Regions from separate parts of the Homo sapiens genome. Here region 2 is linked to region 1. A link means that fine-mapping ties the variant in region 1 to the expression of a gene that starts in the linked region. Tissue or cell type: spleen. Region 1 holds a variant in brackets; the other region holds the start of a gene. All regions are shown on one strand. Distances are between the middles of the regions.

Region 1 (8,108 bases):
ACTACATCTGGATGGCAGGGATGCTCGATGGTATTAAATGGTATTGTTTCTAGGTTATCTTCGTGAACAAAGATAGAACACGCCCCCCCCCCACACACACACAGATCTGTTTCTATTTACATATATTTTATTATATGTTTTAAAGCCATGAGTTCATAATGGCATCTCAAATTCTAACGTAACATCAAAAACTTCATTCTAGTCTCCACTTTATGTATCCGTAACTTGCTTCTTTGATAATAAAAAAACTTGTCTCACATACTACTATGTATTACTCTATACTAGAATACACTTCAAATAGTTTCAGAATTGCTAATTTATACCCCTGTGATATGGTTTGGCTATGTCCCCACCCAAATCTCATCTTGAATTGTAATAATCCCCATGTGTCAAGGGCAGGGCCAGGTGGAGATAATTAAATCATGTGGGCATTTTCCCTCATACCATTCTCATGGTAGTGAATAAGTCTCACGAGATCTGATAGTTTTATAAATGAGAGTTCCCCTACACAAGCTCTCTTGCCTGCCACCATGTAAGACATGCTTTTGCTATGATTTGCTTTTCGCCATGATTGTGAGGCCTCCCCAGCCATCTGAAACTGTGAATCCATTAAACTTCTTTTTCTTTATAAATTACCCAGTCTCTGGTATGCCTTTATTAGCAGCATGACAACAGATTAGTACACCCTGTGAAAAATAAACCTACTAACTAGAATAAATGTTTGTTTAAAGTTCTTTTTGTCTGTAACCTGAGGATATATAATCAAAATACAATGTTCAAAGCTCTTTAAATGAGTCTGCTCCCTTCCCATTCAGTATAGTTATGTTATCCATTTGAAATACAATTAGCCTCATTTATCCTGTTAGTATTCCATCATCCCCCCACACCCTATTGATTTCATCCATTCCTTCATTTATTTTAGGATGTGCAACATCATCTTGGTACTAAATGTCAGAAGTATACAAATACGTATAGAGAACTATCTCTCCCCCGAACCCATGTATTCTACCTCATTCCTTCTCTCTCTCTTGCTCTCACTCTCATATTCCTAATCATCATTGGTGGCAACTAGCTCATTATTTTTTAGTTTTAGTTTATGTTCCTTGTGTTTTTCTCTGTACAAATAAGCAAATATGTATACATTTCTATTTCCCTTTTCCTTAAATAAAAATTATAGGTGTTAGATGCTCTTTTGCATTTTGCTTTCTAAAAATTCATAAAACAGTATACCACAAGTTATTCTATATCAGAATAGAGGTCTTCCTTATTCTTTTTAAGCTGTATAGTACTACATTGGATGAACAGTCTCTAATTTGCTCAACTTCTCTCCTACATAAAGGCATTTAGGTTATTTCCAATATGTTGCAATTACAAAAAAATGCTGTAGTAAACAACTTTATGCGTGCATTTTTTTTTGAATTGTTGAATGAAAATCTTCAGAATAAATTCCTAGAAAAGGTGTCTGCATTGAAAGGTAAATGTCTAAATACTTTTACTAGATACTGCCAAATTCCCTCTCCAAAGGCTGTACCAATTGGCATGTTTGAGGTTGTCAGTATGAGAGTGCCAGATTACATATAACCTCGCCAACAAATGTGTTGCCATACTTTTTAGTTTTTTCCAATCTGAGAGATGAAAAATATATTTCTGTAGTTTCAATTTGCACTTCTATATTATCAGTGAGGCTGAATAACTTTTCAAATACTTAAGGGTCAATTTTATATCTCTTTTTGTAAATTGTTCATATCTTTTCTACCAAGCTTTTGGTGTTTCTTCTCAATTTTAATAGTTCTTTATACATTAGGGATACTAGCCCTTTATTTGGCTGTATATTGCAAATAATTTTTTTCAGTTGTCTGTTACCTTCTTATTTATCAGTTTTTAATGATCCTTTAATTCTCACATATAAAATATACTACCAAGAGCTTATTTCTCTTTCCTATTTACCTTTACCTCTCTTTTATCCTCTCTCTTTTGTTTGCATCATTACATTGTCAGAACATGTAATATTTCTACATTATACTTATATCTTTGTACCCATATTTCTTTTAATCTCATATCTATGATAAAATCTAGTAGATGTTTACCATATACCCCATTTCTGAAGTTTTCCCAGTTGTCCCTTTATTTAGAAAAAAAAACCATCCCTAGTAGACTTTACCTATTGTTCTAAGATCTGAATAAAGAATCCCCAATGCAAAATTTCTTCCTAGTTCCACACTCCCCACTCTGCACAGTTGCTCTATTGCTGTCTTACTTTGTATGTTGTTTTGGAGAAGTCTGACTCCAGTCTATGTTTTCCTCCTTGTAAATCATTTAATATTTTTGGTAGGAGGGCTTAAGAAAATTATTTTTTAGATTTCAAAATCTAATAGTTTTACTAGGATGTGCCTCAAAGTTCACCATTCCAGGTTGATTTTTCCAGCTACCCACTGAGCTCTTACTATATGCACATACAGGTCTTCATTTATTTCTGGAAAGTGTTCTCGAATTAAAGTTTTAAATATTAGCCCTGTTCTATTGTTTTCTTTTTCTGCTTCAGGGACTATAGTTTTTTTTATTATTATTATTTCGATAGTTTTTGGGGGACTGGTGGTTTTTGGTTACATGGATAAGTTCTTTAGTGATGATTTCTGACATGCTAGTGTACCCACAAAGACTATAATTAATATGTCTTCTTCTTTGCCTGTCTTCCATTTCAGCCACTTCTTTTCTGTTCCATTTTACTTTTCTGTGTGTCACTTTTCAATATCTTTTATGTTTTCCTACTTCAATATACCATAAAATTTTCATTTCAGTCTGTCCTCCCTTAGGCACTCTTTAATTTAGTCTTCATATTTATGATAATTTTCTCCTTTTCCTAATTTCTTTCCTGAGTTTAGTCAATCTCTTTTGATTTCTATAGCTTTTTGTCCACTTTGCCTTTAATGTTTTCATATCAACAAATGCTTAAGAATTCTAAATCAAGTTTGGAGCTTTTTATTACATTTTTCTTCTGCTTCGTGATGCTTTCTGAAGACAAATTTTTATCGGATGAAAATTTTGATTTTGATTTTGTTATAGTAGATAGCAGATTTGTATAGATTTATTCACTTTTGTCTAATCCATTTCGTAGATGTGTGGTGGCTTACAAAATTTTTAGTTCAATGGTGCCCTCTTCTGTCAGTGTAGCAGAGTCTAGTTTCTTTAATGGATATTTTGGGGATGGGGGAAGGGCCCAGGAAGGTGGGATTTTTTTTTTTTATGTGGAAATACCATATCACTAAGTAAAGTATTTCTATGTTTATCATTTTTACATAGGTTTTCATTCTATGACTGCATCTTAATGAATTTATTCCGTCCCTAATGATGAAAATCTAAATCGAACACATTGTCAAATTAATCTCCATAGAAACTGTACTAATATATACTCCTACTAGCAATGTGTAAAAAGGTCTACTTCCTCACAGCCTCTGATATGCTATATTGGCTAACATATCTAACATTTTACTCCACAATTTTACAGGCCTGTGAAAAATGGCATTACAGAGTAGTTTTATTTTATATTCATATTATGAGTGAGTTGAGCATTTTTCGTATGTTTAGGGACCATTTTCCTAAATGGTTCTATATTTTCACATCCTCTACCCTAATCTGGTACATTTCTAAATAACTCTTTGAACCTTGAATAGTTTCTGTAATGAACACAGTGCTGGCCCTTGTCTACAAAAGCTGCATTTTAAGAAGTAGAACAATTAGACAAGACTGAACACCTGACCTAGAGGAAGAAAAATCATAGGCTGAACTGATCCAAGCAGATTTCCCTTACCCTTAAATTTGAACTAATCCAAAACTGAGTCACTTAAGCTCATAAGTTCATAAGCTCTTAAGATAAAATATCCTGTAGATTTGGGATTTCAGTTTCCATTGGAGCTAGGACCACCGTAAGCCAAAGTAATCAGCTGGCTGAAGCTACGAGTAAAATGGGAAACAGAATGCTGATTGGCAAGCAGGAAAAAATGGGAAGGACACTCAGTGAAAAATAGAAATCAGAGATGGTATGACTCTGGAAGACGTGAGGAAGAGGCTTAGCTTGCTTCAGTGTGATGGGAATTTCTTTTTATTGTCTTTGATATTGCCTGTTGTAGCCTTTTTTAAAAAAAATTACTTTTTTCTTTGAATTAGTTTGTGTGAATTATTTTTTCCTTGATTAGAATGCCTTTCTTATGGAAAACACTAGTTTTGCTCTCTGTTGCTTCAGGGGTACAAATAAAGCCAATAGATGAAATATACAACGAATCAAAGTCTAACTTGATTATTCAACTTATGGAATGAATTCTCTCAGGAAGGTGAGTGCTTCCTCTTATTGGAACCATTCCAACACAGACTAGGCAATTACTAGGCAGCAATGTCAGAGAAAGGATACCAGTATCAAACGAGAGATTGAATTAGATGCTGTTTAAGCTTTATTTCACAACTGAAATTTTAAGAGTCTATGTATGGTCCTTTTATCTATTCAATGTTTGCTTATTGAATGAATTAAAGACTCTAAATCAAAAATACTTTTATTAAAATAAAATATATTTTGCTACTGGAAGGAATAATTCTTCCAAAACATCTAGAAAACAATTTTCTAGCTAGTGAAAAGGAAATCAGCCTGTAATATCTGGAACTAGTCTGACATGTGTGGCTGGGCTTCACTGTTGTTAAGAAGCTGGCCTTGTACTCA[CAGTT/C]AGGCCATGTTATTTCCCTGTAGGACATAAACAATTTCACATGACACCAATATCAGAAAAGGTCACTCTGAGACCATGATAAAGTGAGACAAAACAACGTCAGTTTATAATTTTATCTTAGCATAGACAAAATCAAGGTCATTATGTCCCCCACGAAATACCCAACCTCCCTATCTCCTGGCTAATATGAGTGACTGCTGTTCCTTTACAAAAAAATAGCTTTATCCTCTTTCTTGTCTGCCCTCTCTGTTCACTGAGATACCCAGTCACGGAATTGTCCCCACTTTTTGAGAGTACCCAATCTAGAGCAAATCTCTGCTTTCTTGGACCCTCCCAAAAGTCACCCCACCAATGCTCAAATGCTATTATAGGTTCTTTCCAGCACCCTTGTATTGGTCTGCTCAGGCTGCCATATAAAATGCCATAGAATGGGTGACTTAAACAGTAGAATTTATTTTCTTACAGTTCTGGAGCCTGGAAGTCTGAGGTCAGGGTGCTACCGTGGTCTGTTTGTGGTGAGGGGTGACTTCCTGACTTGTAGATGGCTGCTGCCTTCTCGTTGTGTCCACATATGGCAGGGGTGGGAGGAAAAGGAAACTCCCACCATATCTCTTCTTATAACGGCACTAATCCCATCATGATGGCCACATCTTCATGACTTCATCCAAGTCTAATTACCTCCCAAAGGCCCCGTCTCTAAATACAATTACATCAAGATCAGGGCTTCAACATATGAATTTTGGGGGGACACAAATATTCACTCATAACAACACTATTACTGAGATGTCCCACGATTCCATGGGATTTATTCTCTTTCATTTTATCAAATAATAAATCATCAACTTGTTCAACTAAAAGTGTGTTTCTGGTGTTCCTTAACCAAAGAGCATTTTCATTAGAAAATGCTGCCTTTTGCAAAAGTTACTGCCATGTTGTTTCATTAAGTTTAGAACACTGGGCAGGTGGAAAGTGTTTAACAGATAGTAGGTATTCCTTGAAAGAAAATTAAACGAGGGTGTTGAGAAAATTGCTTAAACTGTACTGCTAAGAACAAAGCCCTGATATTTGCTTTTTATCTGCTTTTCTCCATTCATATCACACTACAAACAAGATGGGTTTTTGGAGGATGAAGTTGTCATTTAATGAATAAAACTGACTATTTAATGTGACTGCAAATTGTATCAACAGATTCAAGCTGGTAGCGGCTTAGTTCATACTGACATCATTCAATCTGCTAATATTTGTCCAGAATACTTAGGTTAATACACTCTCTGTGGTTCTGCATTTAGGGACTATTATATCATTTAAATATATTAATAGTTCTCCAAATGTCCTCAGGCAATGATAGTGGAATGCAAAATTCTCAATCTGATGCAAGCATAATTTACGGATTTTCCTTAATACTCATCTTTTTTACCATGGGTTTATATCAAAATACTAACAGAATAATCTCAGGCAGGCGGAGTAAATATAGTCAGGCCACAAACATTCCTTTCAGCCAAAGGTGCCAAAATTTCCAAAGTATGCCCTCTCCCCTTGGGCAGATAGCATCCTCAGTCTTCAGACACAACTGTCTAAAAACTGACCCCCTATAAGATTCATTCAAAATTGCATAATAACTTTTAGGCCCAGAGCTTCTAACAACAAGTGAAATCCAAGACGCAAAGAATTTAAATTACTTTGTACTGGTTAACTGAAAAAAAGCTGGCTTACTTACACGTGAAACAGATACCACACCTACGGTTCAGTTTTAATGGAACTAGAGCTCCTGGTGCTTTATACATCTTTCTCTTTTAATCAGTAATGTTGTAAATTACATAAACATCTTTCACAGCTTAAGGCTTAAAGCCTTTTATCTAAATGTAAACACTGGGCTAGGTGGGTAGAACCCCCCACCTAGCAGAATACCACAAATACAGAAAGTGCTTCTAGATAATACAGGGGAGGGGTACCTTATCAGGGCTACTCACACTTAAATATGCATAGGAATCACATGATCTTGTGAAAATGCACATTCAGTGGGTCTGTGGTGGTATTTGATAGTCTGTATTTCCAACAAGCTCCCAGGAGCTGCCCATGTTCATGCTGCTGGCCCATAATTAATTATTATTCTTTCTTTGATAGGAAAGCTACAAGTCTGCTATTTTGTAGAAATAAAAATATCCCTTTGAGATTTCCTTCCTGCTTTCTCTTTTTCATCTACTCCATTCCCTGGGTAAGTTCATTCATATAGTATAAAACACAGTTTAGGTAACCGAAACAATCGTACCTCCTAGAATGTGTCAAATGTTAAACAAACAAAAACCAACCAAAACCAGTACACTTTGCATGACAAGCAAAGTCAAATGCTTCTCATTAATTTCCTCTGATCATCACTAAAATTAAAAACAACTTGTCTGATGTTTAAAATTTAGACACAAACTTACTACAAAAGGAAAAAGAATCTTACAAATATTGTAGAACAAAACGATTACTAAATTGTGTTCAACTTAACTCTGCCATTATTATATAATTATTATATATTATTACTACCTTCTGTAACAATTACTAATGCTATTTTTTCCCTTTATCACAAAGAAAAATCAAAAAGAAATTATGATCATTTGTTGCACACGTTAAAAAGTCCTTTCACAATAATCGTCATTCTTCAGGCAGGAACAGTTAATATTTGTGCTCATTCTTCAACCCAATTAAAGCCCTGAAATCAATAATGGGTTGATTATTAGGGAAAAAGACAAAGAAGTATCCATGGCTACATGGGATTCAAAACCTAAATATATGAAGCCTGTACAATGAACTGAAATTATTAAAATTCAATTATGCCAAACAATTGGTTTAATTAATCCTTATTCTCCTTGAATTGATTTAATATGGAAAGTTATGATCTATTTTAATATAGTCCTTCTAAAATGGAATTTGACCATTTCATCTAAGGTGTCTAATACTTTAATATACAGTTCTTCAATTATGCCTTTGTAATCTTCTTTATTTCTCTAGGGTTAGTAGTTTTGTCCCCCTTTTCATTTCTGATTCTAGTCATTTGAGTCCTTTTTTTGTTCTTGGTTAGTTGAGCTAAAGGTTTGTCAATTTCATTAGTCATTTCAGGGAACCAGCTTTTGGTTTCATTATTTTTCTCTGTTTTTCTATTCTACATCTCATTAATTTCCTTTCTAATATTTATTTCCTTGCTTCTGCTAGTTTTAGGTTTAGTTTACTCTCCTTTTCCCAATGTCAATACAGAAGGGTAGGATATATTTTAATATAGTCATTTGTAGTATAAATTTACCTCTAAGTACTGCTTTTACTCTATCATGTAATATTCTTTTTTTTTTTTTTTTTTTTTGAGACAGAGTTTTGCTCTTGTTGCTAAGCTGGAGTGTAATGGCATGGCACGAT
Region 2 (8,102 bases), 470 kb before region 1:
TTTTGTTAAGAAATAAAGTTCATATTTTAAATTTTTATCTTTTAATTCCATTTTACATGAACTTTTTGAAGTCCCCATTCACACTCGTTTTTGTGAATATAATAATCTACATAAATTAACTTGTCTATAAATCAATGATATGAGAATTCTTCATATAGCTTGCAAATCTTATGCCAGTATTCAGGTTAAATCACTGACTAGCTATACGTTTTTCAGAAGTCTTTCTAATGTCACTTTGCCTCAGAACATCTTCAAAGAAGTGAAAAAAAGATGGTAGTTGATGGAAATCTAAGAGGATTATAATAAAGAAACAACTCTGTGTTTTCAAAAGAACCCCTTAAGGTCACATTTAGCTGCAGCTTCTGATGAGATTGAATTATAAATTTAATTAGAAAAATATAAAATTACTATTATTTATAGTGCTGGCAAATTAAAATAATAGATTTATATAATAGAAGAAAAAGAGTAAGTTAATAAAGTCCCTGCTAAGGAAAGTAAGAACCTAGAGGCAAAATTTTAATTTAATTTTTTGGCATCCATTGATTTTTTTTCCCCACTTCTTGAATAGTTCACTCTAAAACAGCAACTATATGTAAAGAATGAAATCTCAACACTGATTACATTACAGAAATGTTCTTGAATTATTTGTAATGTTCTTTCATCTTTTCTGCCTCTAGGGGGGAGTGTGTTTTCAACAATTCTGGCCTCAGAAGGTATTTTATTGTGGGCCACAGGCTTCACAGGGGTATTCTCGAATACAACTTTAGGGCTGGCTCAACAAGGGAGAAAAGGACCTCTGAAAATCTAGGTGGGTTCTTAGTTTAGAGGTTGCAGCCAGGATGCCAAGGGAGAAGAGTTGCAGAGACTGTTACAGTTGGTGGTGGAGAAAACTTACTTCTGATAGAATTTCTAATACACTTCAAAGAATCACATGTTAGTTTTCCTATATTAATGCTGTCTTTCCTGGTAGTGAGAAATAACATATAGACAGTAATTTCATTTCATAGAGCTGGAAAATAAACCGTTGAATACTTTATAGAAAACTTGCCACCTTATTGTAGTAGCTTGCCACCTTATTGTAGTAGCTTTAAAAAAAAAAAAAAAAAAAACAACCCAAACAACAAAACATGGTTTGTGGATATTAAGTAAAACATTTCTAAACCTCATAAAAAGTCTATTAGTTTCTGAAATATCCTGTTTAGAGCTAACATTGTCTTTCTTTCAAATGGCTAATTTTCTTTCATTTTGCAGCATTTTCCCATAACTTTCCTTTGGTTTCATTCAACAACTGAAGCCAGAAAGGAAGCACCTAGTAAAAAGGTTACCACTCTTTTGAATGTTAAAAAAATACTTATTTTTCCCCATTTCAGTGTTTTACAGAATTGAAAGAAATAATATTTAAAAATTGAGTCAAATAAATAAGTTATTTCTATTTTTTCCTTTTGATTCATTTTTGTGATTAAAGTGCTGCAAAAATTCTATTACAAAATGTTATTTTTGGGTTTATTGTGCTGTATTAGCCTCCAAACTTAGCTATATATATATATAAAAATTTGATATAAAGAATGTTATTACTTAGAGTAGAAATTAACTTTGTTCCTAACACTTTCACATGATGTAACTGGTGGTCCTTGGTTTACTTTGAATACAATCCCATTTAAAAATATTCTCAGGGGATGAAGAGGTATTTAAGTATATCACTTATACTGTTTGGGCCTTAATTCATCTAGAGAGTAAGGGGTGTCAGGCTGGGTGACTTAAGTCTTCTGGCCTGAAGATTTAGAACTACTTATTTACACAAACTTTCAGTTGGTTGCAAAAATTCTAACTTGATGGAAAGTAAACAAACCCGTAACTTTGAAATCCATACACTTACATTACTTGGTGGGTCTTCCCATAATCTTGTGACTCTTTTCATTTGAAAAGGTTTTTTAAAAACCCTAATTGTTGCTCACTGGAATTCTTAAGGGGTGTTTTGAGCTTCAGCAAAAGCATAACACTGGCTTTTTTTTTTTTTTTAATTCGTTCCGCTGCTTGGTTTGGGGTCTCTTCCCTTCCGCAGCTTGGTCTTGTTGCTGCTCTTGAGTGTGACAAACTGCAAGTCGAGAGCTCTTGTCCAAAAGCTGCGGAGAGGCTACGGGCACTCACCCTTACTTAAGCGCACTGCCCTGCTGTTGAACTGCAGGCGAGGCTAGGTAGCATCTGGGATGGGACAGGCGTTCACACCGGTGCCACTGAAACCCCAGACTCTCCGCATAAACCCACACCACACGCGGCAGAATCATATCGCCATTGGCTGGTGTTCCGCAGACACAGGGCATACCGCAGAGTAATAGGAAACACTGGTTCCTACCACTGTGGCCAGTGGTAGGACTGGGTCTCCGAGGCAGGACCTTTCTTGGAGTCTCGGAACCCCAGCACAGTGCCTGGCAACCAGTTTCGAAATCCATTAAGACCCTTGGAATTCATGATTTAGTTCTTGTTTTGTTGTTGTTCTTTTTCTTTTTTTTTTTTTTTAATCTGTGCTGCCATAAACGCCTGCCCTTCTGCAAATTCAGGAAAGATTTAATTGCTGTGGAGCACTAAATCTCAATTTCCAGTGTGTGTGGATTACCCTGTTTGTGGAATTAAATTTTATACAGATGTCTCTTTTGCTCCTGGTTAGTGGCTCTAATTAAATAAATGGAAATTCTCGCAGGAATTAGAAGCTCCTACTTAACAGTGAAGATTTCGGGATCACAGTGCATAATCTGAATATAAATGACCCAGAAGCTGAAACATTACCCATAATCACATTGACGGTTCCAGAAAGAGCGATAAGGAGAGTGCTGTTAAGGGAGGCGAGCGCTGACGCCAGAAGTTGCCATATCCCCAGAAACCCCAGTTTGCCTTTTCACCGTCGCAAGTGAGAACCAGAGCGCGTTAAAGGCCTCGGAGTAAAAAACGCAGCGTCTGGGACTGCGGCACCCGGGTTGAGTCGGGTGCAAGTTTCTGCCGAAAGAGGGCGTCGGTCTGAGACTAAAAGAAATTTGTGGACACGGACGCCTAGTCAAATGAAAGACCATTTTAACACATTTTCAATGTATTTAAATGTGCGGGACTTAATTGTCAGAATTCTCCCGCCCAGTGTAGCCCGTTCACATTGCAAATGACTTGGCTGCAGTAGGCACAGAAGGTCCAGTTCCATTTTGACCCGCCCCGCCGCGCGGCGGACTCCCGCGATGCTCCTCTGGTCACGGACTTCTCCAGAGCCGCTTCCCTCCGGTCTCCACCGCTGCTGTGGCTATGGCCAGTGGGAGGACTGGGTCTCCGAGGCAGGACCTTTCTTGGAGTCGCGGAACCCCAGCACAGTGCCTCGAGCGCTCCAGAGAAGGAGCGGTTGGATCTTTGAGCACTCAGGTTGGAGGGGAGCGTGTGTCGTACCCGGGGGACCTACCGGGAACGTTTTGGGAAAGACAGTCCCTTTATTTAGGTACCTGGTTTAGCAAACAAAGCCCCGAGGACGCTTTGGGGATGCTTTCCAAGCTTTGTGACACCTCCAGAAGTTGAACCATTCCCTCGCCTTTGGGAGCAACAAGTTTCACTTTCCTGCTCTCAGTGCGCTGACAGAGGGTCCGTGAGCTGGGACACTGTGACCTCGGCACCGCTGCGATTCCAGCGCAAACCTGCGTGGCCCAGGGGGAGGGGGCTGGCGCGGGGCTGAGGAAGGCGGGGTGTAGGTGACGCCCGGGCCAGCCGGGCACACCAGGTCCGCGATGGAGCCATCTGCACTGGGACCTTGGTCCTTGTTCCCTGACCTTGCGCCGAGGGACCAGGAAGGTCAGGTGCTCGCCCCGCGTCGGTGCTTCAGGAGGGAATGTGGCCAGAACGAGAAAGGTGAGAGCAAGCGGCACCTAAGGATTTTTGCACCGAAACCACAATTTCTAGAACCATCCCTTTCCCCCAGTCCTGGTTTTTTTTTTTTTTTGCACGGTGTGTGTGTGTATATGTGTGTGTGTGTGTGTGTGTGTATGTGTGCGTGCGCGCGCGCATTTCTCTACTTTAAAGCACGTTTCCTTTTTTGAAGCCAGGAGCTGGAGAGCGTGGAAAGGGAGAGGCGGTGATCGCACAGGCACGCGGCGTGGTGGGGGCTCTTGCCGGTGCAGACGTGGGCGATTTCAGCTTTAAGGAAAAGGCAGAGGGCCTGCGGGGAGTGGTGGTTAGGGACAGGGGCGCGATGGGTAGTGAAGGGGTGCAGGGAGGAGCCCTGATGTAAGAATGTTAATGAGAGACTCCCCCAGCCCAGCCCCCACATCTCCCCACCCCCACCCACCCCACCCGCTGGAAACACAAGCCCGGCCTCGGCGCGCCATGTGTGGTAACACGCTCAGCCGCTGCCACGCTATTTAAACGCGGGCTATGGATCCAGGAACCGGCGCGAATCAATGAGATCAAATGCGAGGGAGATGCACCGTCAATTACAAACACTTGGACAAGTCTAACTTTTTTTTTCTTCTACAAAAACGCTTTCAAAAGCAACCTTAGCAACGCCCAAATAAGAAGCCACCTCTAAGCAAAATAGTATATGTATAAACGGAGGGCGAATATATACAAGTATATATATATGTATATTACAGACGCACAGGTTTACACCCGGTGAACTTTTTCTTTTTCTTTTTCTTTTTTTTTTAAGAAAAACTAGTGACATTGCAGAGAAGGACGCTTCCTCTCTATCTTTTGGCGCATTAGTGAAGGGGGTATTCTATTTTGTTAAAGCGCCCAAGGGGGCGCAGGGACCTTGGAGAGAAGAGTGGGGAGGAAAGAGGAAGGGTGGGTGGGGGGCAGAGGGCGAGTCGGCGGCGGCGAGGGCAAGCTCTTTCTTGCGGCACGATGCCGTCTCTGCTGGTGCTCACTTTCTCCCCGTGCGTACTACTCGGCTGGGCGTTGCTGGCCGGCGGCACCGGTGGCGGTGGCGTTGGCGGCGGCGGCGGTGGCGCGGGCATAGGCGGCGGACGCCAGGAGAGAGAGGCGCTGCCGCCACAGAAGATCGAGGTGCTGGTGTTACTGCCCCAGGATGACTCGTACTTGTTTTCACTCACCCGGGTGCGGCCGGCCATCGAGTATGCTCTGCGCAGCGTGGAGGGCAACGGGACTGGGAGGCGGCTTCTGCCGCCGGGCACTCGCTTCCAGGTGGCTTACGAGGATTCAGACTGTGGGAACCGTGCGCTCTTCAGCTTGGTGGACCGCGTGGCGGCGGCGCGGGGCGCCAAGCCAGACCTTATCCTGGGGCCAGTGTGCGAGTATGCAGCAGCGCCAGTGGCCCGGCTTGCATCGCACTGGGACCTGCCCATGCTGTCGGCTGGGGCGCTGGCCGCTGGCTTCCAGCACAAGGACTCTGAGTACTCGCACCTCACGCGCGTGGCGCCCGCCTACGCCAAGATGGGCGAGATGATGCTCGCCCTGTTCCGCCACCACCACTGGAGCCGCGCTGCACTGGTCTACAGCGACGACAAGCTGGAGCGGAACTGCTACTTCACCCTCGAGGGGGTCCACGAGGTCTTCCAGGAGGAGGGTTTGCACACGTCCATCTACAGTTTCGACGAGACCAAAGACTTGGATCTGGAAGACATCGTGCGCAATATCCAGGCCAGTGAGAGAGGTGAGCAGGGGCGCGTCCCGGGCCCCGGGCCCTAACCCAACCGCTCTCCGCGGCTCTCCCTGCACACTCGTCCACTCTGCAGACCCCACTCCCCACTGCGGCGCTGAGGTCGGGTGCGCGCGGGCACTCGTTCAGGTATGCGCCGTGTGGCTGCGACAACCTTTGACGACCGCCCATCGCGGTGTACGTAGAGGGTCCCAGGGAGGTGAAGGGGTTGGAGGAGAGGGCGTCTGTAGCTCCTGCGTGCCCAGGTCCAACAGGTGCTGTCAAACACTTCGATGTTTTTTCTTCCCAGTTTCCACTTTGCCAGCGCCGGGCTGGTGATTAGGGGGCGCACTCCCAGTGCCTGGCTCCATCCAGGGTCTGAAGCATCCGAGGCGGAAAGAACTTGTTCCCCAGTCCTTTGCCAGCGTGCGCCCCCACTTAGTGCGGAAGCGTCCGCGGACGCCTCGCAGCGAGGCGTCGCCACTTAGCTCGCCCGCTCTTGGGGTTTCTCTGACTGTTGTTTCCACAGACCCCAGGTTTCTTTTAAAGGCTTGTTGACTCACTCTTCTCATTCCTTTCATTTCCCTTCCAGCCCCTTATAAACGAGCTTCTGTGGTTTCCACCAAAAATGCCCCTGTGTGTCTGAATTCTGGCGACACTCACTTCTCCCAGAGTGTTCTGCAACGCAGTTTCTAATGCGCCCAGAGCTAAGCTTTGCGGGAGTGCCTTTTGAAGAAACGAGCGCTGAACCTTCTTTCCACCTGTCCCCCAAGTTTTCTCCATGGGTCTTTGGGTGTTGGAATAAAACCCAAACTGGACAAAGAGCTCGAGGCTGAGGATGGTGGCTATGGCTTCGGGGAGCGGGGGGACGCGGACGTGTAATCGCCAGTGTGGCCCATTTTACGGTAGGGTAGAATCTGAGGGAAGGCGGACTGAGATGCCGGTATAGCGCCGATCCCTCCTCCCTCTAGTCAGGGATTAGGAGCACTGCGATGAGGGAATCCCGTCTCTGCTCCCCCTTGGCGCTCACGCGCCTGGAATGTGAGTGGTGCAATCCCGGCAAAGCTCCCCGAGACCCCAGTGCCACGCGGATGAGACCGAAGGGGAGCGGAGTTGAGCCAGGCGCCGGGCTAGTCCACAACTTGGCATGGCCGAGCACCTGGGCGCTGGTCGTAGGGGACAGCGCAACCTGAGGCCGAAGGCCCCAGGAACAGGTGAGAGTGGACAGAGAAGCCATCGATAATGGCGCTGCTGTCACCGCCTTGCCATCTTGGCCACCTCGGACTCACCCTTTAGAGCAAAGAGGCGAGAGGTGTTTGACAGTGGGAATGCATGGCCAAATTTTGAGCTCTGGAACTCCAGGCTGTCTGTGCCGAATTCCTACCAGCCAAGCAGGCGGGGCGCAGGCTTTGCCGATTATGAAAAAGGGCACGTGTGTCCAACGGCTGCGGACTTGCCACGCCTGCCACGCCTCGGCAAGGAACCCACATCTACACTCCCAAGTCCCAGTCGCCAGGTTACTGCAGCCTCCACGGGGGTGTCTGCGCCCCGGGCTGCTAAGGCTCCCGGAACCTGCTTCTCCAGTTCTCGGCTTTCGAGGGCTAGGCGCTAGAAGTCAGAGACTTCCCAAGGCCGGCTGGGACTGGGGGTGTGTCCCCCTATGGGCGAGATCCGCGGTTTGCTGACTCGTCCGTAATGTCACTACCCTGTAGATCCCAATGTCAGCGGCTGCCCCGGCGCACGTGGCCTGGGATACAAAACCAAGGGCATGTGTGAGACCAGAGGAGGGCAGATCGCGGCCCCGGGGCCCCTCGCCCTCACAGTGGTGGCTGAGGCCTGGGGCTGGGCGGACAGCAGTGCCCTGGTGGGCCTGGGGACTGGTGCGCCCCGGGCTTCTGAGGACTAGGGCTGCAGTCGGCTGTAAGAATTATTTTTTAATTCCAAAAGCCTCATAGACGTTCCGAAGTCTCTTTGCTTTTTTTTTTTTTTTCCAAGTTTGCATTGAGGGGTGAAAGTTTGCTTAACTGACCTGTATATTTTACAAGTGATAAGGTTAGGATTTTACAATTCTTACTCTAAAAAGTATTTCCAACAGTGACCTGGCAGATATTTAGAAATAGGAAACAAAACAGTTTCTCCTCTAATCGTCCTCCAATCGCCTCTAATCATCCTTCCACCCCGAAATTCCTTACACTCGAGAGAAAAAGTTACTTGATAACAAAGCTCTCTTAGGGGACCTTTTAAAAATACATTGAAGTAACACAGTTACTTTACCGTAAGCACTTAATGTATTAAATAGGGCTTCGGTACATGATTGCAGTGAAGTTTCTGGCTCAGTCACCGGCTGGGGGATCTTGGACTGCTATGAAACCTCTGTACCTCGAGCTCCTTAGGTAAAGTGGGGGTAGTCAGAGCACCCACGTCTTTGGGAAACTGTGAGGGTTACAGAAGCTAACCCAGGAATGCCTGGGAGCACTGC

The links. PIP is the estimated chance that this variant, and not a neighbour inherited with it, causes the effect.
Region 2: it holds the start of NPR3, and the variant in region 1 is fine-mapped to the expression of NPR3 in spleen (GTEx, PIP above 0.99).

Annotation. Positions count from the first base shown.
Region 1 is chr5:33,177,942-33,186,049 of GRCh38, forward strand. No RefSeq gene overlaps it. Among named protein-coding and RNA genes, the nearest start is that of LINC02160, 48 kb to the right of the region's middle. The variant CAGTT/C (reference allele first, on the strand shown) is at 4,709.
Region 2 is chr5:32,706,908-32,715,009 of GRCh38, forward strand. It overlaps NPR3 (natriuretic peptide receptor 3), which reads left to right and starts at 4,414. Exons shown (of 8, transcript NM_001204375.2): 1 at 4,414-5,638. The coding sequence starts at 4,870. RefSeq lists an enhancer at 4,775-5,500 and a silencer at 5,376-5,670.